Homo sapiens: one gene and its partners. The protein of the gene in region 4 purifies or fractionates together with the protein of the main gene of each other region. This does not show direct contact. Each region holds a gene or a part of one and is shown on either strand. Other genes may lie near its edges. The genes, in order: RAP2A, STK24, FGFR1OP2 and MAP4K4.

What was found.
Region 1: the proteins of MAP4K4 (region 4) and RAP2A purify together in Homo sapiens (affinity purification with mass spectrometry; 2 studies listed by BioGRID and IntAct, with this or other methods). This does not show direct contact.
Region 2: the proteins of MAP4K4 (region 4) and STK24 purify together in Homo sapiens (affinity purification with mass spectrometry; 2 studies listed by BioGRID and IntAct, with this or other methods). This does not show direct contact.
Region 3: the proteins of MAP4K4 (region 4) and FGFR1OP2 purify together in Homo sapiens (affinity purification with mass spectrometry; 2 studies listed by BioGRID). This does not show direct contact.

The regions. Positions count from the first base shown.
Region 1 is NC_000013.11:97,429,016-97,437,571, reverse strand, and holds the start of RAP2A (ras-related protein Rap-2a), read right to left. Parts: upstream 3,404-8,556; 5' UTR 3,102-3,403; coding exon 2,788-3,101; intron 1-2,787. UniProt on the Homo sapiens protein: Small GTP-binding protein which cycles between a GDP-bound inactive and a GTP-bound active form. In its active form interacts with and regulates several effectors including MAP4K4, MINK1 and TNIK.
Region 2 is NC_000013.11:98,573,537-98,581,648, reverse strand, and holds the start of STK24 (serine/threonine-protein kinase 24 isoform b precursor), read left to right. Parts: upstream 1-4,541; 5' UTR 4,542-4,862; coding exon 4,863-4,904; intron 4,905-8,112. UniProt on the Homo sapiens protein: Serine/threonine-protein kinase that acts on both serine and threonine residues and promotes apoptosis in response to stress stimuli and caspase activation.
Region 3 is NC_000012.12:26,933,914-26,942,424, forward strand, and holds the start of FGFR1OP2 (FGFR1 oncogene partner 2), read left to right. Parts: upstream 1-4,556; 5' UTR 4,557-4,797; intron 4,798-8,511. Other genes in the region: INTS13 (integrator complex subunit 13), read right to left, coding at 643-717, 2,666-2,890. UniProt on the Homo sapiens protein: May be involved in wound healing pathway.
Region 4 is NC_000002.12:101,868,707-101,875,706, forward strand, and holds part of MAP4K4 (mitogen-activated protein kinase kinase kinase kinase 4), read left to right. Parts: intron 1-915; coding exon 916-1,091; intron 1,092-1,588; coding exon 1,589-1,709; intron 1,710-2,787; coding exon 2,788-2,979; intron 2,980-4,940; coding exon 4,941-5,058; intron 5,059-5,375; coding exon 5,376-5,546; intron 5,547-7,000.

The DNA of each region.
Region 1 (8,556 bases), on a different chromosome or scaffold from region 4:
AGATAAATGACAAAGTTATTAAAGTAAGAATGACAGCTAGAATTTTTTGAGCAATTTCTGTGTACTGGTATTGTTTTGGGAATGTTAAAATACATTATCTCATTTAATTCTAACAAGGACTCTGGAAGGTGCATGCTAATCTCTATTTCACAGATAAGGAAACTGAAGCTTAGAGAAATAAGCAAGCATTTCCCCAAATCATATACACCTTAGACCTCTGTTGTCCAATATGGCAGCCTGTGGCCACATACGGCTACTGAGCACTTGAAATGTGACTTGTTTGAATTGAGATGTGGTAGGTCAAACACATACCAAACTTTGAAGACACAGTATAAAGAAGTAAAGTACCTTATTAATAATTTTTGAATACTGACATGTCAAAATGATTCTATTTTAAATATGGTGGGTTAAATAAAATACATTAAAATTAATTCCATATATTTATGTTATTTTTAAAAAATCAGCTACTAGGAATGTTAAAATTACATATGTGGCTCACGTTATATCTCTATTGAAAAGTGCTGACCTAGACCTAAAGCTGAATACTGAATTTGACAGTAGATATCAAATACTGAAAGACTGGTAAAGAAGAGGCCACCTGCATTCACATGTCCTCTCCATCAATGATGGGAAGCCAGACGCTGGGGTTAGGATGAGGTGTAAAATACCTTACTACTACCATATTACAAAGACACACAAGTGAGGGTCCAAGAGGTTCTTATGTATACAACGGTTGAATTCTGGTGAAGAGAATTTATGAACTCTACTTCAGCTGATCAATGATCTTTTTATATCAAGAACTGAGACTAGTGAGTAAAATGATACTGGGCATGCAGAATTTTACTCTATGTTTTTCCTCTGGGTCATAGTGAAAATAAACAAATTGCTCCAATATGCTGAGTTTAGACTAACCTATTATTATAACTGAGAAAAGTAATCTGCACTAAATTACAAGAAACTACAAAATTATGTGGACCATATTATCCAATAATATTTTGCCATATTTGTTCCCTAGGCTTGTGTCAAGAAGTTAGCCATGGGTATGTGGCTTTATCAGTGTATATGTGCATCTTCATATCTTTAAGCATATATATCTAAATGTGAAGGGTGAGGCTGTTGGGGCATTTACTTAGATTATTTTTTGATGTATGCATTTGGCCTAACATTGACATGTGGCAATGTATCAGACTACCCTGCAGTTGGTTTGGTTTGTTTCTTTTTAATTGAGTGGTTGGGGGAGGGGGTAATAAGAATTTAAGTAACTTAAATGTAGCCCCTTAAATGCCATCCTCATACTAAGTTTAACACCAGAATTGTTCATCTCTTAACTATAAACATTTAACTTTAGGAAAATGATACTGGAGAAGTACAAAGCTATCAAATTTACAAATCTTAGCAGCAGAGACCACGAAAATATCTGCTTTATTCTAGTTTGGAATTTAACACAAGGATGAATAACATGCACGATTTTAGTTCAGCGATTAAAGTGCATACTCAGTTAAGGGGGGGTGGAGCAATAGAGAGAGAGCCTTCTCTTTGATCTCATAGGTTGCATTAAAAACTCACTACTCGTAATGAATTTTTGATCATCCCCTGGGTACACATAACTTGGTCCTTGCTCTTTCAAAATGAGTGGACTCAAACTGACTTACAATGTGACTGTGTCTACGGTGCACTTACAACCATCTTTCAGTAAAGGTCTTCAGATTTAGGCTCTAGGTAGAATAAGGCAGGAAAAAAAGGACACCAAAATTATCAGCAGGCATTAACTAACAAGAACTAGATGAAACAGTAATGTGTAATTAAATGATAATTAGAAAAATTTGCCAAAACTTTGAACTAAGATATTATCACATTTCTAATGCTTAAAATTACACGGAAAAATATATTCAGTGAATTTAAGAGAAAACAAACATTTTAAATCATTTATCAGCCATATTTCCAAAATGTATACTTTAGAAAAGAATTTATATATATATATAAAGGCTTATTAACATTAACTTTAAATTAGCTAATACTTGTGTCACACTTTTGAAGAAGCTTCTGTTTTGTTTCCAGGAACTGGTGGTGGTGGTGTGGTGGTGTTTTTTTTTTTTTTTTTTTTTTGGAAGGGGTTAAGGCGGCTATATTAAAAACAAAAAAACAAAAACAAACAGTTAAGCTGCATTCTTTTCCTGTGAATGGCTTATTTGTACTCCTCTGTTAATATTCTCGAAACCCCATTTAGCTTATGATGTCTTCAAATAATTTAATAATCTGTCTTTAAAGTTTTGCACTAAATTAGAGACTTAATTTTTGTAAAACGCCTTGGAACCATAAACCTTTAACGAGATGAGAAAGGTCTCCTTCCTCTGGACTTGACTTTACTGTATAGGTGTGTGAGCGATTTTTACTGTCAAACATTGCCAAGGCAGATTGTTGTTGTTCAGTCTGCAAATGTCTCGACTATACCTGCACAGTTCCTCTCTTCCCAAGACAAATCTATCCACCCCTTTCCCCCCTGCAAGTTTTAAACTTTGTTTCCTTGGGGGCTCTGTAACAAGCAATGCTAACAACGTCCAAGAGACAAAGAGCTGTTCTGTGGGCTAACACGATGCCAAATTTTAGTTGTGAAACAAAGCACTCAAATTTGAGATTGAGGAGGAGGAGCAGAATGACAATAGTAAAGCCTCCAGCTTGGAGCCACCCCCCAGAAAGCCCCTTCCCCGGAGCCCCGCGCGGGGAGTTCCAGCCCCGGGACGGTGACTCCGGGGTGCAGCCGCCAAGCCCCCGTGTGCCCTCGCTCACCGCTTCACGCGGATGATCTGGTCCCGCATGGGCTTGATGTCCTGGAAGCTCTGCTGGTTGACGAGGCTGTAGACGAGGATGAAGCCCTGGCCGTTCTTGATGTACAGGTCCCGCATGGACGCGAACTGCTCGGTGCCCGCCGTGTCCAGGATCTCCAGCACCGACGGCGACGAATCCACCTCGATCTCCTTGCGGTAGAAGTCCTCGATGGTGGGGTCGTATTTCTCGATGAAGGTGCCGGTCACGAACTGCACGGTCAGGGCGGATTTGCCTACCCCGCCCGAGCCCAGCACCACCACTTTGTACTCGCGCATCGTCCCTCCGCGGCCGCCGCCGCCGCCGCCGCCCGCGACATAGACCTACGCCGGCCGCGCTGCGCCCCCAGCCCCGGCCCCGGCGGCCCGCCCCGCCGCCTCCCGCTGCCGCCCCCACCTCACAGCCGCGGCGGCCCCCTGGGCGCCGGCGGCGGCGGCGGCAACTGAGGGAGCAGCGGCCCTGGGCATGGGCCGGGCCGAGCCGGGCGGCGATGCGGCCCCGTAGGCACCGGGTGGGACTGAGGGCGAGCAGAGAGAGAGACCGGGAGCCGCTGGTGCCGCCCGAGCCGCGGGCCCGCAGTGCCGCCCGCCCCGCCCCTCGCGCCTCCACGCCCAGATCCCCGCCCGCCGCCGCCGCCGCCGCCGCCGCTACCCCCAGCGCTCGAGCGCGCGCCCGAGCCCCAGCCGCAGCGCGGCCAGGGGCGGGGTCCGGCGGCCGGGGCGGAGCCCGCGGCGCAGCCCCGCCCCCGCCCCCTAGGCGACGGGCCGCGAGCGCTCCCGAGAGGCTTTGCGGGGCTCGGAAGCTTCTGCCCGCGCGGAGATAAACAAGCACCGCGACCGCCGAGCAGCGCCGAACCCAGCGCGCCCAGTCAGACCCCAGGGCCTGTGTACCGAGCATGCGCAGTTCCCGCCCAAGCCAGGAGCAGCGTCAACCTGAGACTCCCGAGACATTAAGAATTCGGAAGGGATGAGATGGTAGAGGGGCTAGAGCTACCTCCAAGCTTTATCCTGAGGCGGGGAGTGAAGGAGAGATGCCCAAGGCCCAAGAGGGGCCGCGAGGGCCTTTGTCCGATGCCACCCAGTCTGTCAGCACTCCTAGAGCTTTGGTTTTATCTTGTATTAGCATGTGAAGCTTTAAGGGGGGGGCACCTACAGGCTTCTGACTGAAGTTGTGTAAACGCAACAAAATGAAGCTTTGGAGCGTTAGGACATTGATGGGAGGGTGACGCCCCCCTCTAGCAGCGCGCCAGAGGGGCGAGTCAGAGGCGGCCACACACCACGGAAGTCGGGTCCAAGCCCGCTGACGTCGCCGGGGTCCCGCCCACCAACCCTCTGGACCCGCCCACATTTCTTCTAGACCCGCCCCTTTCGGTGCCGAACTGAAGTCGAGCTCTTCCCACGCCCTGTCAGCCACGGGTGAGTTGAAAACCTGGAGAGCGGAATCCCGAACGGCAGCCGGAAGGCCCTGGACTCCTCATAGCAACAGCCAGCTAGGGGCATCTAGTGGGAAGCTGGGATTCATTCTAGCCAACCACATCACGTCTCTGTACCACAAGGTACCATTCACGACCAATAAGAGAGCGCCCCCATACCACGTGCCTTTACTCCTTCAACCAATCGAGAAAAACGCTAGTCGTAGGATCCGCAAGCCCACCTCCCAGTGCCTTGCCAGGCGGGGCTCTTCGCGCACGCTCTGCCAACCAATCGTAGGTGAGCTGGCGAGTGACGGAAGCTTCGGCCAAGCCAACCAGAGCTCGCGAGCCCCTTGCCACCGAGGCCGGCGGGATGGAGACAGGGACCGGCTGCTGGGGTTTGGGAGGGGCAGAGATTGAGGAGCCAGTTGCTGTGCCCTGTTCTGGCAAAAGAACAAGATGCGTTGCAAGCCAGAATGATGAATTCCACTTTTCACGTCGCCTCCGTGGCATTCTGCCTAAATGATGGGCATGGAAATGGTGCTGAGGGATGTGGGCTGAATCGAGAACACAGGGACTTTTGTCTTCAGGGTGAGAAATGTTCCGGTCCTTAAGGAAACATCGTGCAGCAGTTGCATGGGTCTTCCAGGCGTTCCTCCCAAAACATTATTTTTTTTCTTTCACTATTGAGTTTTAAAACTTAGCGTTCTGTCGCTAGCATTGCATCTTAGTTACACATCCTCTCCCACCCATAACGTCAAATTTAGGAGACGATACATCCCCAAGCTTTCCTGCATTATTTTTTGCAGTAACTGGTTATTCAGTTTACTTTCTTTAAACTATGTCCTTCTCAAACTAGTCTCACCTGTTCGTTACTGTCGCACATTTCCTGCGAATAACACGTTTCTGTAGTTCTGTTGTTAGAGCCTGGCATACCTCTCCCCGTTCCTCTTTCCCACAAGGTCATCATGCAGAGGGGATTTTGGTCTGAGTTAAAAGCCAGGTATTCTTTCACCATCTTTTCTGTCGATAGTCAAACTACTACAAAGACTACTCAAATTTAGTAGTTTCTTATTTCCCTATAGCTTCGTTATATTAGAATGGATAACTTATATTTGCATTACCTTGCTGTAATGAACACACACCAAGTTTTCATTTAAAATTATCAAGGACAAATGTCCTCTGAATTTAAAAATGTGTATGTAGTAAAATATAACTCAGCATTTCTTGATTACATATCATTAAAATATGAATGGTACTATCTGAGCCACCAGAATCAGCAGTGAAGGTATTATATTAATAAAAAGGACTAAGAATCAGGACTGTTTTAAGGGAACTGGAACCGAAGAGGATCTACTATTTCATCCTAGGCTAGTTAACATGAAATAGTGAATTAAAATTGAAAGAGCTTACATGGATGCTTCATATCTGAGCTACTTTGGCAGGGATGTTTCAAGAGGATGTAGGTAAGTATGGTGTTCACCTAGCTTTCCAGAAGTCTCATATTTTGTGTAAAATTGGTATGCTTATTCATGGTTACTTTGGGTTAGTAGAAGCTATACTTCTTTTCCAAGGAAAGACAGACTGTCTTAAGATTCTAACTGTGCATCTTGGTGATAAGAAGTTCTTAGGGTTGTTAAATAGAGCCAGGAAGCGTGAAGCTTTCTCTCTAGATCATGACAACTCATCTAGTACCTTGCATTACAAAGGAGCTCTAAGTCCATTTACTTTGCAAGGAATGAAGTTCCAGTGATTAATGTTTTTGAGAAATTTGTATTGGGATTGTGGGGTCCAGAAGGTTGCCTTAAGTAACTGTTTTCATGACTCCTAGGTCCCTAGATGTTGAGAAGCTCTGGATTGAAGCTGTCACAAAAATAGTGAGTGGGCTCCGTAGTCACTCCATTTAGCATAATACAGAGTAGGACAGCTTTGTGACATTTCTCAGGCTATTTCCCCTGACCTCTCATCAATGCTGACGTTTTTGATAAGAAGGGGTATAGAGACTGCAGCCCTTGGGGTGGTTACAGTTCATTTATTTACAGGCCTTATATTGACAGGCCTCAGATTTCATGCTCAGTACCATAAAGGTTGATTTTTAACCACCAAGAGGCAAAAGAAACATGACAGGTCGGAGCATATTTTCTCACCTATTCTGGCTTAAATGATGGTACTTACCTGATTTGTGGTTGTAGGTGAAATGTTGGGTGAAAGATTAGCTGCTATAAAAAGGATGTCAGGACGTGTAGAGAATTTAGAGGACTTGGGTGGGAGATGGATGTCTATTTTCTAACCCCTTAGTCATGTTCATTCCGATGCCAGCATAAACTCTATTTTGAGATGATTATAGAAATAACTTATATCTTCATTTGTTTGTGGGAAATAAAAAATAAAAATGATATAAAAGAAATTTGAATTATTCCCAAGAGCTGTAAATCTGTAAGATAGTGAAAACTTAACGCAGTAACTGACACTGCAGGATCCCTTTAGTTTCCAAAGTGCATTGCCAGGAGAATAAAAAGAAAGAAAATCTTCATTTCTCCTCTCTCCACTAAATCTGAAAGGGAGTTATCTCACCTATAGCCAGATACCTTCAATTATCGCACTTGTGTTACCGTGGAAACCCAAGTCCATCCTTTCTTTCTGTAAAAGGTGTTGGAAAAGGTGGTATGAAGTGGGAAAGGTACTGTATTCTGGGACTTCCTGACACCAGCAAGAAGCAAATATGCAGATAATTTAATAGAAACAAATTAGTAGAGGATGTTTGTAATGCGAGGGGTACTTTTCGACTGTAAAACCCTGATTCCTAATGCTTCTTATTAAAGCCTGCATGCCTCTGATTAAACATAAAGGGGAAGGGCATGTCAAGTACATTTAGCACCTGTGAAACGCTGCTGGCAAGTATAAGGAGAGCAGACGATGGTTTCTTGACCTGTGAGGCTCCTAATACAGTTGAGAATCTGCAGTATATATGTGGAGTGGAAAGGAAGGGGCAAAATAAACTTTGTTCTTCCTTTAAAAAATGTGATATGTCTCAGTGCTTTTGAAAAGAAAAGGAATTAGAATGCAGAAATTAAGAGTATGGAAACAACTCAATAAAAGAAACGTATGGGTGGAGAGAGTAGATGTTTCAAAAGGCCATTTTAATCAGAAAAAAAATCTGAAAGAAAAGACGTAATGATTAAAATGTAGGCAGAAAAAAGAAAAAGCCTGAAGAATCTTAAGAGCTAGAGGATTCTGCGGAAAACAGAGCTTCAGTGTGGTTCATTTAACAAAGCAGAAGAGCAGGCACAGTGTTGCTTGCGTACCCAGCAGTTTCCCTTTATTTTTGCCAAAGAAGCTGGGATGAATCAGGATTGGACTTTAATAGCATTGCTTTCCCTCTGCCCACGGTTAGTCCAAAAGTAGGCACGTGACTCAGTTCTTGTCATTGGAATGGGGAGAAGGCTGCTAGGGCTGGAGGGATTTCTAGGATATTGACAAGAGTGAGGAAATATCCCCGTTTTCTGATGTCGCTCTCTTTGCTTCCTGCTTTACACATTGAAATATGAGAATGTGGCCTCCATTTGGGGGCTATGATGCATTATGACATTATGGTGCAATACTGTAGAAAGCCAGCAACTTCGGATGGCCAGGGAGGAGGATGGGAAGAACCTAGGTCCTGCATGACAACATTGGACAGTCAAACCAACATTAGAACTGCCCACATTTGGACTTATGGCTAAGTAAACAGCTGGTGTCTTTCAATTTAAGTGTGTGTTGGTAAGGTTTTCTGCATCTTACAGCAAAATACATCCCACCTGTTAACAAAAAGTATGAGGGATTCCAGCCAAAATCGGGCTTTAAAAAATCAGCAAGCATTTGTGAGCACTTTCATTTCACTAATATCTGAACGATAGTTCAAAGATACTATAATATTAATTGAGTAATTACTGTGTATATTTTTTAGGCTCTGGGGATAAAACAATAAGCAATTAGCCAAAAGAGCTTGTATTCTAGCAGGAGAGACAGATATTAAGCAACCAATTACATGTTTATATTATAAAATAATGGTTATGCTTAAAACTAATAAGGAAAAATCAGGAATTAGAAAGGGTATATAGTAATTATATAAATAATAAAATATTACAAAATATATAACTAAATAACTGAATGAAATTACAAAAACAAACACTTTCCAAGTAAATGAGAATGAAATGTATAGTTTTTACTGACATTCCCAGAGGTCGAGAGAAACAGTAAATTGGAGTAGGTTAGTCCAGGAGAGTTGTCTGAAGCAAATTAATATTGTATCAGGTTTTGAAGGAAGTGGCGAAAGGACAGGC
Region 2 (8,112 bases), on a different chromosome or scaffold from region 4:
GAAATATGAAGCAATGCTTATTAGCAGAAGTGTGCAATGTGAAGTGCGCAGAAAGGTCCACAGGCCTTGGCAAGGGAGAAGGAAGCTCTCATTCCTGAAGCTGAGCCTGGAAGACCCAGCTAAAGGGGGGCTGACCAGACACACATTTGCAGAAAAGGAGGTGTGTTACGGGCTGACTTGTGTCCCTCCAAAATTCCTATGCTGAAGTCCTAATTCCTAGTACCTTAGAATGTGGCTGTATTTGGAGATAGGAACTTTAATAAGGTAACTAAGCAAAAATGAAGTAATTGGGATGAGCCTTAATCCAGTACGACTCCGGTATCTTTCTAAAAACAAAGAATTAGGGCCAGGCGTGGTGCCTCACACACTCTGGGAGGCCAAAGTGGGCAGATCACTTGAGGCCAGGAGTTCGAGACCAGCCTGGCCAACATGGTGAAACCCCGTCTCTACTAAAAATACAAAAATTAGCCGGGTGTGGTGGCGCTCGCCTGTAGTCCCAGCTACCAGGGAGGCTGAGGCAAGAAAAATGCTTGAACCTGGGAGACAGCGGTTGCAGGGAGCCGAGATCTCACCACTGCACTCCAACCTGGGCAACAGAGCGAGACTCCATCTCAAAATAAATAAATAAATAAATAAATAAATAAATAAATAAATAATAAAAACAGGAAATTAGGACACAGGAACACACAGTGAAGACCACGAGAACACAGAGGGAGAAGCTGGCCGCTACAAGCCCGAGAGAGGCCTCGGAAGAAACCAATCTTGCTGACACCTTCATCTTGGACTTCCAGCCTCCAGAATGGTGAGGAAATAAATTTCTGTCGTTTTGGCCATCCAGTTGGTGGTTCTTTGTTACGGCAGCCCTAGCAAACTAAGGCAGGGTGCAACTGAAAACCTACTTAGGGTGATATCCCTGCAAGAGCCTGCCCTCTGAGCTCTCCACGCACAGAATGAAACCTTATTGGTACCATTCCTCAATGTAGCTGGGATATTTTTCTGGGGCTTTGGCATACCTTTTCTTGCTATTGTGTCATCCAACAATGACTAGACATTCTTCTTTAAACTGATCTTGATAATTTGTCTTCACCTACTGAACATGTGTAGAAATTTGTCTAAGCCTTCTGTTAGTTACTTATCCAAGCTACTCCTATTTCTCCCTTTAAAGTTCACCATGTAAGTCCCTTTCTTTAATCTCTGAATTTAAATTGCTAATGCTCTACTTGTCTAGCTGTTCTTTATAAAGCAGCATTTGGGGGTGTTTATCTTTTCAACTTAGAAAGAAAAGTGAAGGGATTGATTGTGGAATTCTTGTTTTCTGTTCCTCTCTGAGCTCTGCTGAGAGTGCGTACAAACTAGCTTAGGGGCAGCAAATACATAGGGGCTTTATATTTGGAGGGGCTCCATATAGGGGTATGGAAATATTCTTTGTGGTCCAGAATATATTTCAGATCATAATTCATTGCCAGACTGATGTCCTTAAGTGAACACAAAAGACAAAGAGGACCAGGGAAGAAAAATAATTCAATGGATAAAGTAAATAACTCAATGGGTTAGTATCTCCATGGAGACCATAAAATGCATCATCTCTATGGAGACTCTCATAATCTCCTTCTGGACTTACGGTAGTGTATAACCTGTTGTAATCATACATTGGGGGTGGAGGGAAAGTGACAAGAGGAAGAGGGTGAGAGGATGATCCTTTTCTTTCCTTGGTGGAAATGATAGCTATTGCCACTCTAAGTTTAATCAATTATGGTATTGTATTCATCCAAAGTTAGGATTCTGGGAGACCAGGTCCCTAGGATGGGTTAAGAGGCACCTGAGGATCTAATGTTTATATGCCCAGTACTGAACTGGGTATCTGACATGTATTAATAGTTGGTATTCAAAAAAGGTGTGAATGAATGAACATAATAGGCAATTGCACCGGATCTGATCCCGGGCTCAGGCCCTGTGCATCATCTCTGTTGTGCAAAAACAAATAAGGTGGAGACCTACTTCTGCCATGGGGAATACTCGGTACTACCTGCATAGGGCCAAGGAGAACCAGTAACTCCCATGTTGCTTCCTTCCCTTCTTTCGATAAGAATGGTGCTCAACAGTATGAACATTGTCAAAGGATGAAACAATGGTCAGTGTGGAGAGAAGATAAACAGGGTTCGGGGCAACAGACCAGCTAATGGATGCAAGTCACTGTGTCCAGAGAAGTTACATCCTGCCGGAATCTCCCTGTTTTGAGCCTCACTAGCCTCAGGACACAAACTAGGATTCCGGTTATTTTTTTATACCCAGGGTACTATGGGCCTTTGTCCCCCATCTGCTGTGACTTATTTGCTGGCAATTAGCCCACTGCAAAGTGATTTCTGAGCATTTACCATGGTAATGTCTCAGATCAGCATCCAGACATTTCCATCCATTCATCTAGTTTCTTGCTCTTTATCTTGGTGCCAGGTTATTGCCCTGGCTCTGCTGACCCTAGAAGAATATTTTTACTGTCCCTTTTCTATGCTTAGACATGTTTAGATCCACAAATATTTACCATTGTGTTATAGTTGCCTCCAGTATTGAGTTCAGTCACATGCTGTTCAGGTTTGTGGTCCAGGTGCAATACGTCATACCATATAGCCTAGGTGTGTAGTAGGCTATGCCATCTAGGTTTCTGGAAGTACACTCTATGATGCTCACGTGACAAAATCAACTAAGAACACATTTCTCAGAATGTATACCCATTGTTAAGCAATACATGACTGTGTGTCTGTAGGCCATATATATTAATATATATATAGTCATTTGAGATCAGTCTATATACAGTGTTTTGTACCCTGTATTTTCTTTAATAATATATAATGAATACATTTTCCCCATTACTAGGTACTGAAAGACATAATTTTAAATGACTACATAGTACTCGTATGAAAATGCTATTATTTACTTAACCTCTGTGAGACTTTTTGGCTGTTCCGTTTCCCCAGGATTCTAAACATCACTGTGTCTTCTTACATGCATTCTTCCACACTTCTTGGTTGTTGCCTTAGGATATGTTACTTTAGGTAGAATTCCTGGGCTGCGCTGAAGAATAGAAACATTTTAAAGATTCACATTCTTGCTTGTTTTGCTGTTCGCCTCTTTAGGTACCATATTTTTTAGGTGTACAAAATTTATACACCTGATTTTAAGTTCCTGGGTATCAGGGTTCATACTTCTCTTAATTTTGTATTTCCTTGCAGTCCTACTTACGGGTGGCAGGGCTCCTCAAGGGATGGGTGTACCAATGACAACCATGAAAGTATTCTAAGGTATTCCCTAGGACTCCGAGAAAAAACATGCATCTTTCCAAAGGGAAAGAAGGGATTAGATGTTAGCATCCTACTCCATGTCAGATCCAGAGCACCCGGGGGAACTGAAGTTCGTGGATGGAATACAATGACACCTCAGAAAAGAAATACTCCTTTGGTGGAGGCCTTTAAACTTTTGGGGGCTCATTTTGTCTGCCTAACTCGCCCAGCCAGGGCGCAAAATGGCCACTTAGGAGCATGAGTGAGGTGCCAGCGTCCCTACAATCTAAGGAGCAGGGAGTCATCACTGGGGTGGCTGCCGCTCTACCTGTTTGCGACTGTAATAAAACACCTTCTGGAGGCCGAGGGACCCGCTTCATCCTGACTTTTCCCCTCAGTAGCTAGAGAGAAGGCGGCTGAAAAGAGGAGACAGAACTGGTGCTGAGTGGGCCTGGAGCTTCCGAGGCAAGGGAAAGAGGGAGAGGGCTGCAGTTCAAAGTCCAGACGCGCTTTCCTTCCATTCTCTTCCCTTCCTCCCTGCCCTCTGCGCCCCATTTTCCCCTTATCGTGGGTGGGGGCTTCTGATTTGCTGCGGATCCCAGAGATGGTGGGGTTCAGCCTCCGCACTGCTTAGCTAAGTTCCCAGCCCAGCAGTCCCAGCCGGGCTGTTTTCGGTAACCAAAGCACTAGGAATTAACCTCTCTCTCGGCCTCTTCCCTTTCGGTTTCCTTCTTGGGTTGGCTGGAAACTTCACCCAGACACCGAAGCAGCTCTGCCCGGCCTTTTGGCACAGGCCACCGGCCGAGGCCCCACGGGGCGCTCTCCTTCCCCAGGTGCCCCCGACTCCGATCCTGCCCTCAGGGGCTCGCCCGGGACGCGTTTTCCCAGAGGCCGCCGGGGCGGGGTGGGCTGGCTGGCGGGAAGAGGGGGCCGCGGCCCAGGCTCGCCCCGGCGCCGGCCCGGTGGGCACGCGGCCAGCCTCCGGCCCCGACTCGGTCCCTCCCGGCGCCCGCCCCAGCCGAGGCCCCCTCCCGGCCCCGCCGCCCGCCCGCGGGGGCGTGGGAGCGCCGCAGGAGCAGCTGGGACCCGGGCCGGGCCGACAGGCGGCGGCTGCGGCCTAGGGCTCCCGCGCGGCCACCGGCCTCTCCCCTCCCCCTCCCGGAAGCGCGGGGCGGGGTCCCCGGCCGGGCCGTGGGGGCGGGCGCGGGGGCCGGGCCGGGGCGGGACGCGCTCGGCGCTCGCGGGCTCGGCGGGCTGTGCGCGCCCACTCCGGCTCCAGCGGCCAGCGCGCGCGGGCCCAGGCCGCCCGGCTCCAGCCCAGCAGTAGCGGCAGCAGCGGCGGCGGCGGCAGTGCGCGCGAGGCCCTGCGCCCCCAGCAGCTCCTCCCTGGCGCCGTGCATGGAGACGCGGCCCGCCACCCGCCGCTGAGCCCCCGCCGCCCGGCCGGGACCCGCCAGGGCTGGGGTGGCCTCGGGCTCCGGCCGGCCCCGCCGCCCGAGGGCTGCGCGCGGCCCGCGGGCCTCGCCGCCCCGCGCGGATCGTCGCGGCCCGGCCGTCCCGTCCCAGGAAGTGGCCGTCCTGAGCGCCATGGCTCACTCCCCGGTGCAGTCGGGCCTGCCCGGCATGCAGGTAGGCGGGCGCGGGCCGCGGGGCCGGGATGCGCGACCGGGGCGGAAGCAGCAACTTGGCGGTATCCACACGGCGTCCCCCTACGCTCAGCCGGCCGGGGTCGCGCCGGAGCCTGGCTCCCCGCGCGCCCGGCTCGGCCGGGGGTCCGAGTCCGAGTCCCTGGGCGTCCCTGCCGGCTCCGGCGGCCGAGGTCTCCGGCGTGTGCGTGCAGGAGCCGTAGGAACCGCGGCCTGGGTCCGGATGTGGGGGTGCGGGCGCCTAGTCCTCCGCGCTCCCCTCGCCCCAACACTCTTCCGGAGCTGCAGGCCCTGGGTGGCCCTGTCCCCGGGAGAAGTGAGGTGGAGTGATGCCCTTGGAGGCCCCCGCCGGGTCCCGGGGCCCTGCGTGGTGGCCGGGTTGGCGGAGGGCCCCAGGACGCGTCCCCCAGGCTCGTCCCCCACCCCCGGGCAGGCGGGCGGGAGACCTGGGCAGGGCGGGGACGGGGAGCGCGCCTGGACTCGTCCGGGCCCGAGCGGAGTAGGCAGGGTGGAGTGGAGGAAGGTAACCGCGAGTTCCACTTGCAGTGGCTTTGCCCGGAGCCCCCGTGCACCTGCGGACCGGGGGAAAGTGCGAGTTGCAAACCTTCTGGAAGGAGGAATCCCTCGGACAGCCGCGCACCAGGGTCCCGGGCCCGGCCCCGGGACCCTGGACTTTCACTTTGAGACTTGGTTGCATTTACAGGAATTCTTCGCCCAGTAAACCTCTCTTTCGGTACTTGGTGACACCTTGGCCTACCAGTGACTTTTTGGGGAGTGGGAGAGGAGTTGAATTTCAAATTTACATGTATAAGTTAAAGGTTTTTTGTTGTTGTTGTTTTCGTTGTCGTTGCTTTTAGCCCTTTGAAAAACAAAGCTACCGTCCTTGGCTAACTCTTGTAAACTTTGTAGGCGCAGAAATGGTGGCAAAATGCTTAGGATGGAAATCTTAGGATGCAGTTAGGATATGTCATGAAAGTTTGCTCTGCCAGTTTAGCTGAGTGAACGTTAAGTGTTTGAAGAAAACCAAAAGCATCCAAGTAGATTACTGGTTGATTTACAGGTACCAACAGGCTCCTTCCCTGTGTCTTGAGGGCTGAGAAGCACAGAGCCCAGACCTGGGACTGCCTCTGGGGTCTGCTCGCCTCTTCCAGTGAGATCATCCCTCTCCCTTCTTTTTTTGAAACCGTAAAAAGAAAACTGGATTTCACTGTTCAGGTTTGAATTCTGGAAAAATAGGAACTCAAAGTTACCACTTTAATGGCAGCTAGAATTTTAGTCCAAGTGTGTGTGTGTGTATATGTGTGTGTGTGTGTGTGTGTGTATATATAAGCAGTATATATATGTGTGTATATATGTTTAAGCAGTAAATAAATATACATTTAAGCAGCAACAGTTAAGTTATTATCTTAAGAGTGACTGGGAAGATGCTTGAAGAATATTCTTTTGTCGACTCTCATTTAAGGAGCGTTGAATTTAGCATGCATTCAAAACCTAAACTTCTGCTGACTGCTGGGTAACAATCAGATGTGGTTTCTTGGTATTTTCTAAAGCCGCTTTGGTATGAATTTAGAGGTGTGTAGGTCAGAGTGAACTGGGTGAAAAAAGTAATTTCTTACTAGTCGAGCAAGAAAGGACTCTTGTAATGATTTAAAAAAAAAGTTTTATCAATATTTCCTTTAGGTTGATATTTATACCGTGTTCATCAGGTTGGAATCTAGCACAAATGCCTCACTTACTAGGTTAATTGGCCTTTGTGGATAGCGAATCAGTTTGAAAAGGTACTAAAGCCCCTTTGGCTGGTGCCGTGAAGTCAGTATCAGATGGTTACCAGGTGATATCTAGTATCTCACCTTTTCATTTTTATCCTCACTTTTTTTTTTGAGTGGGTCAGAATTCTTAAACCTTGGGAAAAGAAGATACATTTCCTTAATAACTTTGCCTCTCAACTATTATGTATCTGTTAGGTTGTGTTACATGGGAACTGTTTTTATTTTGTTTTCTCAGTATGAAAGATCTTAAGTGTTTCTCAGTGGAAAAGATGATCAGATTTTCAGCTGTTACAGTTTTACAGTTTTAGAGGTAGGTAAGTTGGCTTCTGCCAGTCATTCCTGTACCTAAGTACATCTACAGACTGTATGGTAACAGTGTATCATTTGGGGAAGAACATTCTTTTCTCCTCCCCCACCCCACAAAAGAAAAACAACAGCACATTTATTTTCTACTTCAAATTAGCAGTTGCTACTGCCCTGGGAGGCTTCCCTAAGAGTTGTTGCTGAAGATTCAATTAAAAACACACCTGCTTTCGACTGTTGTCTGCTAAATGGGAGGAGAGAAGTCCGTATCTCTTCTATGGCTTGCTCTGATAGGCCTCATAGCCCTCCCTTTTTCTTGTCTCCTGACCAGGGCTTATAAGGAGTTGGCTTAGAAAGACAGCAGAGTCTGTAATCTCAGCAGTTTGAGAGGCCGAAGTGGGCGGATCATGAGGTCAGGAGATCGAGACCATCCTGGCTAACATGGTGAAACCCTGTTTCTACTAAAAATCCAAAAAATTAGCTGGGCGTGGTGGCACACGCCTGTAATCCCAGCTACTCGGGAGGCTGAGGCAGGAGAATCACTTGAACCCGGGAGGCGGAGGTTGCGTTGAGCTGAGATTGTGCCGTTGCACCCCAGCCTGGGCGACAGAGGCAGACTCCGTCTCAAAAAAAAAAATAAAATAAAAAAATAAAGCAGAGTGAATTCAGGTGGCCTAGGCAAGGATGCTTGAAAAATAACAACCATGTTAGTATAAACACCATTTTTCAATGTTTTGCAAATCATTTTTATGCCTCTTGATTCTTACCGGTACCGTTTGAGATGTAGATGATATTATACCATTTTGTAGATGTGGAGACCAAGGAAGACTTAACTGACCAAGGTGAGATCATATATTATGTGGCAAATTTGTGATTGGAAACTACTACTCCTCCTACTCCCACTCATCATGCAGTGTTACTGTTTTATGGTTACTTTTGCAAACATTAAAGTTTATCTCATTGCTAGTTAGATTGGCTAAAGAAATTAGAAATAGGAGGCTGATTTTTTAATTTATTCAATCAGCAACCCTTATTGAACTTTCATGTGCCAGGTCCTAGGGGAGGGGTTGAAAGTGGTAGATCTGAATGAGGTTACCATTTAAAGTAAATGTTTAATGA
Region 3 (8,511 bases), on a different chromosome or scaffold from region 4:
ACTAACCATATATATTACTTGGCTTAACAGTGAATAATACTTTACGTAGATGTTATAATGCCAACATGAAACTTTGAAATAACCAACAATTCTGACATATTAATATTGAGAACACAAGGGAAGGGGACAGGCATTAGACATATGAAGGTCAGAAGTTCAAGACCAGCCTGGCCAACATGGCTAAACCCTATTTCTACTAAAAAATACAAAAATTAGCCAGGCATGGTGGCACACACCTGTAGTCTCAGCTACTCGGGAGGCTTAGGCAGGTGAATCTATTGAACCTGGGAGAGGTTGCAGTGAGCCGAGATGGCGCAATGCACCCCAGTCTGGGTGACAGCAAGACTCCGTCTCAAAATAAATAAATAAGTAGATAAATAAACAGAGAACTCAATAAACAGGAATAAAAACATGTTATTTAGAAATCTGGAAGTAAATATGACAACTACTAAAAAATGGAAGTTTGCTTGGGGGTGCTGGGTGTAGGGAAAGCCTAGAATGGGGATAGCTGTTTTCATATGACTTGGCATTTTAACACTATATGCAAATCCTAGAGTGATTTAAAAAATTAGTCATTTTTTTAAAAAGTATTACCACATTTAGATAATTTACAAATGGCCACAGCTCAAAATCTAACCATACCTCCTGTAAATTTTGGTCTTCTTGAGTCCAAGAATTTAAAACATGTGCTCCAGAGTCACTCACAATAAAATTCACCTAATAGATTCCAAAGAAACAATTAGTATTCAACTCTAATTTCACTCAATCACCAACATATTTTCAAGTAATATGCAATTTGTAACACTGTTTCACTGATTCATTCATTCTTCTTTTTATAGTTACAGAATGTGTAGTATATGCCAGGTGCTATTGCTGGCACTGAGTACATGGGAATAGAGTGATGAATAAAAAAGTTCTGTCACTCACAATGTGGGGAAAGTCAGGGGAGGGGAGTCTACTAGGACAGAAGGCACTGCGGGAAGAATACAAACAAATAAATGAACAAGATAATTTCAGAGAGTGATAAACGCTATGAAAAATAAGTTAATTAGCTACTTTAGATTAGGTGGTTACAGAAGGACTCTCCATAGAAGTGGCAACTGAAGGCAATCCAAAACCAGCCACCGTAAAGTCAGGGATAGACAATCTGGGTACGGCAAATAACAAATGCAAAGGCATCTAAGCATATACCCTGGAAAGGGTGAAAGTCAGAGCAGGCAGTGGGAGAGGAGACAAACTCAGAGAAAGAGGCAGGAGCTGGATCATATAGGGCACCGAAAGCCAAAATAATGGATATGGTCTTTACGCTAAGTTTTAAAGTAAAATGCAAATTTGAAAATTTAAAATTACCTGCTATCAGGTAAGATAATGACAAAGAACATTTTGGAAAACTTATCAAATGATGATTCTGACCCATGTTCCTTTTTGGCTAGAGGGTTAGATTTCTTTCTTTACTCTGGACAACACGATCTAATCTATGATCTTTTTCCCTATATATCGATGAAATACCAGTTTTCCTTCCTCCCCCAAGAAGTTTGATAATTGGTCTTCTCTTCCAAGGCTTATCTGACAGGGATATATTTTACAAGTCACTTTACGTAGATTTATCTCTTTTAAAGCTTACATCGAGGAAGTAAGTGTTATACTTACACGGGAGGAAACTGAGGCTTGGAGAGATTAAGAAATATGATCAAAGTCACACAGCTAGTAGTTAACCACGCCAAGGTCTGAACCGAAGCCTGCGCTCCAAATCAGTTACATTCCCTCTCATTATATATTTTTATCACACACAGAATGCACACAAATTTTAAGAAGGGCTTATATTTTAATTTGGAATATATGTGAATGTATAATATCAGACTATGTTCACCTTTACTCTACTGCCCTACCTTCCTCAGTCTAAGAATTGGCTAGGTCCCAGCGCTTCGAGTAAGACAGAAAGCAAGTCTTCCACTTGTGGCTAAACAAATGACTTTCCCAAAATAAGACATTTAAGATACTGAAATCTAAGATTAAACTTTAATACCTGTAATTTCTGTCAATCATCCATTTCTCTTCTTACTGATAAACCATATCCACTTAGCATTCTTAAAAGTATTTCTTTCTAATATGGCCAAACAATACAGCAGTTTAGTATATATTTGCTAAAATTGCAAGCAGCTAGCCAGCTTAGGTTCAAATTCTGGCTCTGCCTCTACGTAACTATGTGACTCAGGACAAGTTTCTTCTCTTTACCTCAGTTTCCGGATCTGCAACAGGGAAGCAACAAACAAGACTGACAGTCAGCTGCTACATGCCAGCACAGTTTGACAGCAGCTCTCAATGGTCAGTCTGTGTTCTATACTGGTTGTTACATACTTTGAATATTGCTTCAATAACTACAGTTCCTACCTAACATGACTGTTATGAGAATTACGGAAATTAATAAATATGAAGCACTTTGAAATATGTCTGGCACATGTAAAGTGCTCAATAATTGTTAGCTGTTATTATTACTGGCCCCAATTAAATATCCATTATATATTAATCCCAAAGGGCAGCGTTATGTACCACATTTTTAAGTAATAAACACACAGTCATTATCTATAGCAAATTCATATAAAAATTCATTTATGCAGTTAAGTACATCCCCAAAATCATGATTTTGTTTGTACTTCACACTCACCAGCTTTTTGAAAGGAAATATATCATACATTATTCTACAATATTCCATGGAAGATTCTACTGAGCAAGTCCACAATGATTTAGATATGGGGGCCAAAGGAATGATTCCTTGGGTTCTATTCTTCACCAGCATATCAAACTCGACATGCTGCCTGCAAGATTCTGCCATATAAGGGCAGTGATCCACAACAAACACTGTTTTATGAGATTCAGAAAAAATCTTCATTTTGTTTTAACCTGTAAGGGGAAAAACATATTAGCCAAATATTTGTACATAACATCTTACATTTTTTCTAATTTTCTCAAGAAGATTGTCTTTCCCTCAAGAAGACTTGGTAGGGAACATGAATAATATGTTCAAAGAAATCTGTCCGACAAAGGACAGTTTAATGAGGTCATGACCAGAAAGCAAGGGTATCAATACACCATATTAGGCTGTCACTCTACCAGGCCCAGACAAAAATACCAGTGCATGCATTTTTGGTTTTGCTTTTAAAATGAACTTAAAATTGTCAGAGGGAAACATTTTGACATTTAATTGTATTTGATTCCCTTACATATACGAAACATAAGTGACAAAGACTCTTGAAATACAACTTTATGATCCTTGCTAATTGACATTAGTCACATATAAACCCCAAGCCAGCATTTTTGCACTTCCCTCCAAGAAAAACGTTTGAAGGGGGACTGGCGGGTAGGGGTGCGGAATTAACAGGAAAGAGGAGTGACAGCAAAAGAAAAGGCCAAAACAAAGATAAACATCTCCTAAGATAACCGCACATCAGGTCTTCGCCTTAGGATAAGGACCCCAACTTCACACTCTCCCCTTAGCTTTTGAAACATCACAGTAATTTACCAGGTAGAGCAGAAAAACTTAGTTGTTACCATCACACTGGTGTGTAGAAGGAAATTTAAAACTTTTAAAACTTTTTCTTATTAAAACAGAGCATACGGTACTCCCCTGCTTCGCTAACAAAATCTTATACTGAATAGACAATCCACATTCGAAAAGCACATGGCAAGCAAAGCCAAAGTGTTAAATCAAAACGAACTGATTTCTTACGATCCAGCTATTTTCACCTCTTGCTTTCAAGACGCATCTCCCCTTCATGCAAAACTCTCTTTGAGAAACCTTCTAGACCCACTTTGCTGGAGGGTGGGGGGTGGAAAATACAAGGTGAGTGGATAGGGAAGACCTCAGGATCGAGGTTCGCTTACTTTCGTGCCTGGTCCTGCAGTGAAAACGAACAGAGGCTATGGACCACAGCCTCTCTGGAAAAGGCTGCTGGCTGGGCGGGGAGAGTCAGCGCACAGTCGGGAGTGTCTGGTGCCACAGACAGGGGACTATGCTTTCCCCGATCATCTCCTAGCACACCGGTCCTTCCCAGGCTTCCTAAGAGCAGGAGCGCGCGTGCGCGTGCACACACACACACGCACTCGGGCTCGCGCGTGCGCACAGCGCTCTCCGATAGCCCGGCCAAGCCTCCCTTCCCCCTCGTAGGGCCAGGCGTCCCAGTCGCCGAACAGGAAGAGGGCGGGGCCAAGGAGGAAAAAAAAAGCCTCCACCCCTCGAGATTTTCCACCCGCTAATTTTCCCAGTCACCCATTGGGAAGCAGGATCTGGGCGACCTGAAAGCCTCCCCAACAGCGAAGTACCAACCACGGCCCCCTAAGCGTACGACCCACCCACCCGGTCTCCCCTTCTCTGTCTCTCCACCCAGGCCGGTTTCCCCTGGAAAAACTCGCGAGACTTTGCGAGAGGCCGAGCGAAAGCCTGGGAAGGGAGGAATAGGGAGGGACATAGAAGGGCCCCGCCCTGCCTTCTGGGGCAAAGCGGAGAGTGGTCGGTTCTGCCCCACAGTAACGCGAGGAAAGAAATCTCGCGAGGCTGGAGTTCTCCGGGAGCGCCGGTCGGAGGCGGTCGGCGGAGGTGTCTACCCCGCCGGTGATGGCGTTGAACGCCACTGGCTTCCCGGCCTTCCGTCCGCTGCCTCCGTCCGATTCTGCGTCTGCTTGCTGAGGAGGCGGATTAGGGGGGCGCGGAGTCTCTTCCCTTGAGTGCATAGGTCCCGGTTGGTAGAGGGTTTGAGTCCGCATCGCCACAGCTGAAGGCTGCGAGGGACTAAGAGCAGAGTAAGTGGACTAAATCCAGGGACGGGAGCAGGGGTGGGCGAGTCGGAGGCGTCCTTTGCCGGGGCAGTCCTTCGCCGGGGCCGGTGCCTTGCGCCTCTTGAACCACCGGCGCCCGGCCCTGTCCGCTTCCCGCCGCGGGCTCCCTGCTCCTGGGAGCCGGACTTCCTCTCCGCGCCCCCCGACTCCGAGCTCCTCTTAATGGAGATGCGGTGCGGAAAGTTCAATGAAAAGCCTTGGCTCTAACCCTGTGGACACACCTTCCGTATCTGCTTTCATCCTGCCTTACCCACCTGCGAGTTCACCACCGGACGGGGGACCCTTTCAGTCACCTGTTTGCAGCGTTTAATGAAGATAACTTGTTTCTTGAAACTGCTCTCCAAGGGGTATTACTCTTTTCTGGTTCTCTTCCTGCCTTTCTTCTCTATCCCATCTCTGATAATGGTTCCAGTATCTGTCCTGCTATCCGAACTAGAAAACCAGGAATCATCATTGGTTCTTCATTTCCACTTAACACTGCACTGTATTATTTTTTTTTTCGCCAGAATTAGTGCGGTTGCCCCCTCTGCCCCCCGCCCTCCACTGGTTTCCCTACTATAATCCTTCCATAGAGTTATTCTGAAATACATATTTATCTCTGTCCTTTCCTTAAACTTTTTAGTAACCGTATTGCTGACAGCATCAAATCCTAATTGTTAAGCACATCATCATTCAGGATCTTTTACAGTCTGCCCCAATCCATTTTACCTTTTAGTCCTGCTTTAATATCCTACCATACAAGACTATACTGGCTATTTCCCCAAACATGCCATGCGCTTTGACAGCTCTGTACTTTTGTACGTGCGGATGTCTAGGATGTTTACTGTTCCTCTATTTTACCACCTGTCAAAACCCAATTCATAAATCATTGTCTTCTCAGACTCCCCCAGGTGACATTGATACCGCTGTGCTCCCAACGCATTTGAAACTTTTCTTCTGCAGTATTTATTAGGTTGTATTATTTGTTTCTGTCTCTCCTGCCAATTTGAACCTGGGTCTGTCTGGAATCATGTCTTACTCATCTCTGAGAAAAAGTCCAGTACTTGGCACATAGCAAGCATTATTTATATATACATATGTATGTTTATTGAAATGGAATAGTTCTAAGGAATTCACCGTAAGAGTTCTTCATCCTTTAAAATCATAGAATTTTGGGCCAGAAGGAACTCTGTACATTAGCTTAAAGGTCCCGACCTATTTTGATTATGAGAAACCCTGTACTTCTAATACACATGCAATTGGACTTTTAGTAATTGTTGGTTGAAATTATGTATAATGACAGAAAACTACTATGCTTTTAAATGATTTTGTATTTTATTTTTACAGTATCTATTTATATTTGAGAAATGGAGCAGAAATGTTTTAGACTACAGACAGTGCTTGGAGTATGTGCATTCAGGCAACTCTTCTACTGACTCCTTAGCCTGTAGGTTAGAAATAACTGGTTTAGATTAGGTTAGTTCCTTCTTGAACTGTCACAACTCTTTGAACATATGTATGTGAAACTTATATTCAGCCACAATTCTAAGGGAACGTGTAATTTTAAAAAAATCCTCCAGTGTCATTACTTCCAAAATCTTTCTTCCAAGTTTAAAAATTAATTTTCTTCAGAAAGTGTCTTTATACAGTTCCAAACATGTATTCATTCCACTATTTTCAAGGACAGTGAAAATTTTCTTTGCTTTCACATACAGCGATGTGCCTTTATAAATGCTTATTTTTATATGTAATTTATATGCGTTCTTTCTTGCATTCATAAGATTATAAGTTTATATGAAAACCATAACTATACCTTTTGGTTTTTTTATTTCCATATGGGTCAGTTCATATTATGTACTAATTAATATTAGAGACACATACCTGAACATGAAAAAATTTAAACTAGATTGTTGACATTTAAAGACAGATCTGTGGTGTATCAGTAGCCACAATATTTCTGTGTAGATGTAGTGGTAGGAGTAGTGGATTTGCAGATAAGGGAAACAGAAGTGTCCAATCAGTAAACATTCATTGATCTTACAATTAATGTGATGCCTAATTAAAATGGTTGCTAGGCTTTTATTAATTACCTAGAAAATATTTGAAATTTTTTTCGTCTTTAATTTCTCTTACATTTCATTTATATTCCTATTTATTTTCTGAGGTTGGCTTGAAAATTTTGACTTGAATTTCCTTAAATTTTTCTTAACCAAAATCTAAAAGTAAACAGCTGGCAGTTGCTGTCTTGGGTGGGTGGTGGTTTCTCTTTTATCAGCAGCAGAATGTTCTAAGCCTTCTGCCAGGAGTCTGACTGCAAAAGTCTTTGGGTGGTAAAGTGGGCGAGAATGTGACTAATGCAGAAAAGAAAAAAAAATTTTTTAACTTGCTAAAAAAAAAAAGAGATTCACCTGTAATTTGGACCCGCCTATAGAAAATAATGTAAGTAAGTGTATTATGGCCAGTTAAGGTAGGCACTATAAAAATAGGCCGAAAAGTTTAGAATATTCCTTTTTTACTGTAGTCTGTTTTTTAAAATTTGAAACTTGTTAGAGAGTTTGGAAAACAGTCTTCTTCCTCCCACTCCACTTCCTGGCCAAAAAAGAGGGGAAGCACAATGGTCTTCAAAAAAGGTGATAAAGTAAATGCATATTATAAAATATTTTAAACTTTTGTGTGTGTGGTTTCACGTACAGGAAATGAACATGCAAATTCTTAGAAACTGTTGTCACTGTGTTTCTGAAATGCTAAAAAAAATTATGCTTTGAGCTACCTGCTGCTTATAATTCCTTTCCCTGAATAGGTAGGTTTTTATAGTTAACAAATTTTAAATGTAGTTGATTTTGATAGTAGTATTTCATTATGCAATCTGGAGAGGAGAGAGTGTTTTTCATAAAGTGGATATTAATTACAACTTTAAAAAGCCAATCAGTAAACATTCATTGATCTTGTAATTAACTGTGACACCTAATTAAAATGGTTGCTAGGCTGTTATGTCTGGAAAATATTTGAAATTTTTTTATTCTTTAAAATCTGTCTTCATATACATTCCCATTTCTTTTCTATGGCTGGCTTGAAAATTTTAAAAAATATCTTGGATGTTCCATGTGTTGGGTAGGGTCAGAGAACTTACTTTTTTTCGTTTTCCACCTGATGAGATTGAGATTATTTCTATACAGGTAAAAAGCAAACAGGACCCTGGGAATCCAGTGTGGCTTAGGAATAGGACACTAGACTGGGGATCAGAAATTCTATTTTTGGTACTAGTTTGGCTCTTTCCTTGCTTTGTGGTGCTGTCATTCAGCTTTGTTGGTTTGTTTGTTTGTTTGTGATGGAATCTTGCTCTGTCGCCCAGGCTGGAGTGCAATGGTGCGATCTCGGCTCACTGCATCCTCCACCTTCCGGGCTCAAGCAGTTCTCCTGCCTCAGCCTCCAGAGTAGCTGGGATTACAGGCGTGCGCCACCACACCCAGCTAGTTTTTGCATTTTTAGTACAGACAGGGTTTCACCATGTTGGTCAGGCTGGTCTCGATCTCCTGACCTCGTGATCCACCCGCCTTGGCCTCCCAAAGTGCTGGGATTACAGGCGTGAGCCACTCAGCTTTTTAGATTTGGAATTCCTGGGTCTATTTTCTCATTGGTAAAGTGGGAATAACACTTGTCCTCTTGCCCAAATGACAGTATAAGGTAGTTAGTTATTGC
Region 4 (7,000 bases):
CTCAGGGTCGCAGTGTCTCTTCATGTGTCACAGACTTGTCCATGAATGTGGCAGGTTGTGAACAGTCGGTGAAGTGAGATGTCAGTGGCATCCTAGTGCTCACTTCACTCCTTTCATTTTAATGTAGGTTTGAAGTTTTTTTTTTTTCAGTATGAGGTAAAATTCTAGATCAACAAATGTATATACACAGATCCTTGAGCTTTGGTGTAAAGACACATGTCTATATGACAAAGTCTTCTTTAAAGGGGTCAGTCCAGAAAGCAAGCCTCTAGTTAAATAAGCCTGATTTAAAGAGTTTTGGGAGGGAAGTTATGTTTCTACAACTTTTATTAATAAAATATTAAACCTAAAATGTTGATTTTAGTAAAATATTAATATTTATTACTAAAATTTCATAAATATCCTATAACTAGTAAATAAAAACATTAAATATTAAACCTTAGCGCTTTGAAGTTTTTAATAATAAAAGTTGAAGTAAAATAAAAATGTGTCTCTCAAAACCTTTTTTATGAGTCTAAAGAAGACTTTGTCATGTAGGGAGATCTCCTTACAACAAAGTCCAAGAGTCTGTGTATATACATTTGTTGATCTAGAATTTTACCTCATATTAAAAAACAACAGTAATACTATCAGCTTAACATAAGCAGATCTTTTTTTTATTGTCATGGGATTTGAACTGTATATGACATCTTTGACTTTTTTTTGGTGTCTTCTATTTTTTTTTTTTAATCTCTCTCTTGACTTTATTTGGTCTTTTCTATCAAAAGCCATAGGAGCTCACTTTCTCATGAAACTGGGTAACTATAAAAGTCTTACAAAACTGACATTGTGGCAATTTATGGTTAAAGAACTTCTCATCTTCTCCTGTCCCTGCTCCTGCTTGCCTTACTCTCTCTTTTCTGTCCTTTGCTTTAGGATCTGACCGCACTGGCCAAAGAGCTTCGAGCAGTGGAAGATGTACGGCCACCTCACAAAGTAACGGACTACTCCTCATCCAGTGAGGAGTCGGGGACGACGGATGAGGAGGACGACGATGTGGAGCAGGAAGGGGCTGACGAGTCCACCTCAGGACCAGAGGACACCAGAGCAGCGTCAGTCCCCGGTCTCTTTTAGAGCGGATGAGAGTATTCTCTCAGAGCCTGCTTTCCACTGGGACCTAGTTGTTCCTAGACTATTCCGTGACCCCATGAGCACTTACTATGTAGTTCTCGTGGATTCAGCAGCAGGTCGCCTTGTGTTTCCCCTTCTCTTCGTTGGTGTGTGCATATGTCAGTGCTTCCCCCAGCACCCCAGCGTGTACTTTATTTTTTCCTTTTGATTTGAGGATATATGATCCAGGGGAAATTTCAGTTTGGTATAACTACTTTAATTAGCCATAATTATTCATTCTAAGTTTTTGCTCAGAAACAAATGGCACTGGAAAGAAATTCTTTGTTAAAGGGAGAAAGCTAAGCAGTTGCTTTTTTGGAGGAGGCTTTATATCGGTAGCCTCATCTCATGTTTTGATTTTGAGAAGGCGAAAAGCCTAAACAGGATCTCCTTGACTCCAGAGATTAAGGCCTTTCACGTCTGGATTTTTTCTCCATAGGTCATCTCTGAATTTGAGCAATGGTGAAACGGAATCTGTGAAAACCATGATTGTCCATGATGATGTAGAAAGTGAGCCGGCCATGACCCCATCCAAGGAGGGCACTCTAATCGTCCGCCAGGTACCCGTGTCTTCTCTGTTGTCAGAGGCTGAGCTTCTCCTGTGGTCATTAACCCACTTGCTCATTCACTCACTCATGCTGTTTCTCCATCATCATCTGTTTTCATGTTAACAAGTCCCAGAGGGTCAAGTGTCGAGTGTCGGGGGCTAGGGAGGCAGGTGTGTACTGCATGCCCAGAAGGTAGCGAGTAGTCTCCACCCCACATCGCTGCTCCTCTGCATGTCTGCGGCAGCCCTCATTCAAGCACCGCGCTGAGTCTCACAGTCTATGTCTGAGCGGGAGAGAAGCCACAGGGAGTCCTTAAACAGGCTCACAGAGTGAGGAAGCAGGTCTGGAGTCTGGCAGAGCAGCCACCATGGCTCTGCAGAGCACGCTGGGCTCTGAGTGTCTGCAGTGCCACAGTGGGAGCGGGTGAGGCAGGCAGGACGAGCCTCATCACAGGCCCAGAGACTCGGAGAGCAGAAGGGTTCGGGAGGTTTCTCTTCTATGTTCCAAAATGTTAGTTTTCTCACTTGTTGAATAATTAAATGTGTGCCACCCAGATATGCTCAGTTTGGATCACTAAGCTTTATAACTGTCTGTTCATTTCTTAGCTTAGACTTAATTAAAGTGATACGCTTCTCATTTAAATAGAACAGGGCACCTATTTAGTATTTTGGACTTTGCCCTAAGTGTGTTTCATGCTATGGCAATGCATTCGGATGGAAAGTAGGAAGAATGTGGAAAAGACCAGGATTCAGAGAATCCACAGGTACTTTCTGGAGCTTTGCAAAGAAAGATTTAAAAAGAAAAAAAAAAGGATACTGGTTTTGGTAACAGAAGCTAGCGCAACAGATAAACCAGATTAAACACTCACTGCTCGAGCCGTGCAGCCACCAGATTAGGTACTTTGAATTCTGTTGGCACAAGTTAGGCATTTGGTGAGGAAGTGTGAGCAGTTCAGGCTAATTTCTTTGGTTTTTCCTTGGTAATTTAGCAGAGTTTATAAGTCACACAGCACCTTAAAGCAGTTATCAATAGGGCCATAGGCAATTTTAGCAGCGCTTGAGCGAGACAAGTGTGCCTGTTTTTTCTACAGAGTACAGTTGACCAAAAGCGTGCCAGCCATCATGAGAGCAATGGCTTTGCCGGTCGCATTCACCTCTTGCCAGATCTCTTACAGCAAAGCCATTCCTCCTCCACTTCCTCCACCTCCTCCTCCCCATCCTCCAGCCAGCCGACACCCACCATGTCCCCACAGACACCCCAGGACAAGCTCACTGCTAATGAGGTATGTCTCGCACCACAGCTGGCTGCTTTCCTGGGGTTAGACCAGCACTGCCTAGGAGTTAGTTTGCAAAGGAGACCTTTCCAACACCCTCACCCCTTCCCTTCCCACCCTGCTTTCTCTGTCACCTACCCTTCTCCCCAACCCCAAGTAACATGTTTCAGATCTGCATATAAACCCCTTAACCCTAGATCAGCTCCCCCAAACTTGCCAGTTCACTGTTTACTGTTCTGTAGATAAGTATAGTTGCATGGCTTTATCTAGTTTATTTTTTAAAAATCTAAATAAAATGATTGCTCTGTCCTCAGACCGGTATTATGTATTTGGCATGAAATTCTTATAGTCATTTGTGGAATCTGCCTTTTTCATTCTTTTTATCCAATAAATAAAATATAGGAAGATTCGGTTCAGCAGGCTTGGCCTTATCTGGACAAACTTATTATCCTGTACAGGAATCTCTTTCAAACAGAACTGATTTTTTTTTTTTTTCTTGTTTGGGGGGTGGGTTGTTGGCTGATTACTCTTACTTGTTTTCACCAACCCTGTTAAGGAGTTTGTTCTTTGACATTTACAATCACTCAGAGGTTTAGAAGCCAAATTATTTTTGGGAAACCTAGAAAAAATTAGGATGTTAAGCAAGAAGGACAAAGGTTTGAGCTTGTTTTTAATTTAAAATTTTGTGTGGGAAATCTGTGTGCTCCTTTGAAGGCTTGGTTGTGGTGCTCGGTCTGGGTGTTAGCTCAGTCTGGGTGATTCTTTGCTCTTTGAACAGGGTTATACTCCAGGTGTAGTGACATAGCCCACTTGAGCACCCGTATTGAATTAAACAAGTGATTTGATTCCACAGAAGATTTGGTTTAAGTGTCTTTATCTACCAGTTGAGGGAGGTTAGAAAGAATCAGAAAAATCCTCTCCTCCGGAGGAGCAGTGGCAAGTCAACTGCTTCCTAGACAGGCTTGGCATCGGCTAGACTGGCTCCTGACTCATGGGACAGGGAGGGAAGCTGCCAGGGGACAGATGTTCAGGTGGGAAGCTTAGGGGAGGGCATGGGCTCTAGGACATGGTGACCCTCAGGTGTCCATGGAGGGGGTCCAATGGTACAGGACAAAAGCACTTGATCAGACATGTTCCTTTTTTCTCCTGAGGTATATATCCCACCTACACTCACATTCTTCCTTATATTTATATTTTAAACTTTGCTCCATTTCGCTCTAATGTGCAGTATTTTACTATAACCCTTAACTCACTAAACCGGCAAATTTATTTTTCTGTTTGTTTTGTTTTTAATTGTCATTACATTTCCACTTAACAATTTGTTTCACTTCCTTTGTGTTTTTTTGTCTTAAGTTACATTATTAACCAAAACACTAGTGCTCCTAAAAGATCAAAAAGATACGCCTTCTTTTGTCATTTGCACCTTTCACTAATGAGTCCTCATTTGGTATGGGTTTAATGGTGATGCACCTAAAACAACAGTAGCCAAAGCTTCTGTAGCTTTCTGGCAAGAGGCTCAATTTAAAATAACTACAATTATTAACAATTGCCAATATTCCAGCATAGATTATTTGGACTCTTGGGTAGGAGAATAAATTCAGAAGTTGGTGAATTGAGATCAAGACATTTCAGACCTCCTTTAGGAGTTTCATTATAAGTATTTACTTAATTTTTTTTTAAAGCTAGGCACATGAAGTCTAGATTTCATTGGTAGCTTGCAGCACTGCTTTGTAAGTGAGCAATGTCTCTGGTAGAGATACGGCTCCTGCAGTGGTTCCAGGTAAAGCTGCCCTGAGGGGTGCTATGCCACGTGGAAGCTCCCCGCAGAGCATTTTTTGGGGGAATGATGCAAGGCAAATAGAGCAAAGTATTGGGAAATAGTGCAATATAGAAGTGAATTGAAATGTGTATTTTTAATGTTCATTTTTAAAATGCCAGTTGTATTAATAACATTGAAATTTACATTGCAGACTCAGTCCGCTAGTAGCACACTCCAGAAACACAAATCTTCCTCCTCCTTTACACCTTTTATAGACCCCAGATTACTACAGATTTCTCCATCTAGCGGAACAACAGTGACATCTGTGGGTAAGTACAGTAGCAACAAGAAAGCAGCTGACAAATGGGACTTTATCTTTGAGTTGCTCTTTTGGGTGGCTTAGGTGTAGCTGGTTGTTCACAGGCACAGACCTCGGGTACAGAAACTTCCCATCCCAGTTGTATGCCTTATTTGCAATGAGATGCAGAGTCCATTTCCTTTTTCCATATACATTGCTTACAGATTTCTTCTCTTTGACAAAGTGTTGGTTATACCACATGAATATTTACTTGAAGTATACTGGGGAAGGGAGGCAGGCATAGTGTGTGTGTGTACAGAAAATAATTTCAAATATATTGTGTTTCAGTGGGATTTTCCTGTGATGGGATGAGACCAGAAGCCATAAGGCAAGATCCTACCCGGAAAGGCTCAGTGGTCAATGTGAATCCTACCAACACTAGGCCACAGAGTGACACCCCGGAGATTCGTAAATACAAGAAGAGGTTTAACTCTGAGATTCTGTGTGCTGCCTTATGGGGTAGGTGTCTAGCCACTACTCCAACACTTTCATTTTTGTTCTGAGTGGTGGCTGGTCTTCTAGAGAAGTACTGCATTGAATAGTTTGTGGATAGACAGGATGGAAGACTTCTATGATGTCCATCTCCTGTTATATGCAGAGTGGTATATTAGCAGACTGGTGTGGCACATGTATATGATTGCACTCATTTTAACTGTCAAATATTGGCATGATTAATCTCCATTTTATTTTTATTAAACAAATTTTTGTAGTAGTTTTGTTACGTGGATATATTGTATAGTGGTGAAGTCTGGGTTTTTAGTGTAACCATCAGCCCATTATACTCAATAGTGTACATTGTACCCCTGAACCCTGAGGTTGACTGTTCTCACTATAAAATTCAATCATATCTAGCAGTGGAAATGTTGGAGAAGTATATTTATAAAAACTTACTGCAACATGCAACCCAGTGTTTTTCATTTTTCATGCTTGTAATTTCCAAGTACTTTACAGTGACTATTCTTTTGACTATTAGCATTCAGTACTTTATAAAATTATACAACTGTACAATTATACAACTTGGAAATATATCATGGAGAAGTAGAAGATAGAGTGTAAGTGCCACAATACCTGCAGCTTTTGTGTTTTGAAAAGAGTCTTCAGCTTTATCTTGTTACTCCCTCATTCTTTCTCACTGTAAAATCTTGAGGTTGATGTTTATATGTTAGTTTTTAGAAACACACATAATAGGATTTCTTCACAAGGCCCATATTTTGTGTAGTTATTACCAGATTCTTGACATAGGAGTTTAAAAAAATCTACTTGATACTGAAGATTGACCAGGAAAATATCAAAATATTGTGTAAAATAGAACCTTTGAAATGGTATCTGTCTGGCAGCAGTTCTATCAATAAATATCTGTCTTTTCTACCAATAATTTCTAAGCTGTTTTAGATCAACTTGCCTAGATATATGCAGGGAAACCTAAGCATAATATTCAAATAAGTTCCACCTTGACAAGGATATAGTCAGGGCAGAATGGCCAACCTCAAGAATAAAATTATATGAAAATGAATCACATATTACATATTTAAATATTTTTCTTATACTGATAATCTTTTTAGTTGTACAGCATTTTTTTTTTTTTAATCTCTAAGGGTTAAGTCACTATGCCCACAAGCATTGCTTGGGTAGATACTGTCCTCCAAATGTTGGGATAATCCCAACTCAATCAACTCTATAAGGACCAGGCATGAACAGAGAGAGGGCTGTAGGAGCGTTGTTCTCTCAATGCCGTCACAATTATTTATTTCAGATTATCTGGAAATAGGGTGTGGGTGGGTGTGGGCATACATGTATGTGCCATGATATTCTTCCGCCTCACTCCCTCTACACAAATACTTTATTCCTTGTCTTGGTGAGTTTATGACTGAGGAAATCAGTACACACAGATATGTGCCCAATTCCCTAGGAAT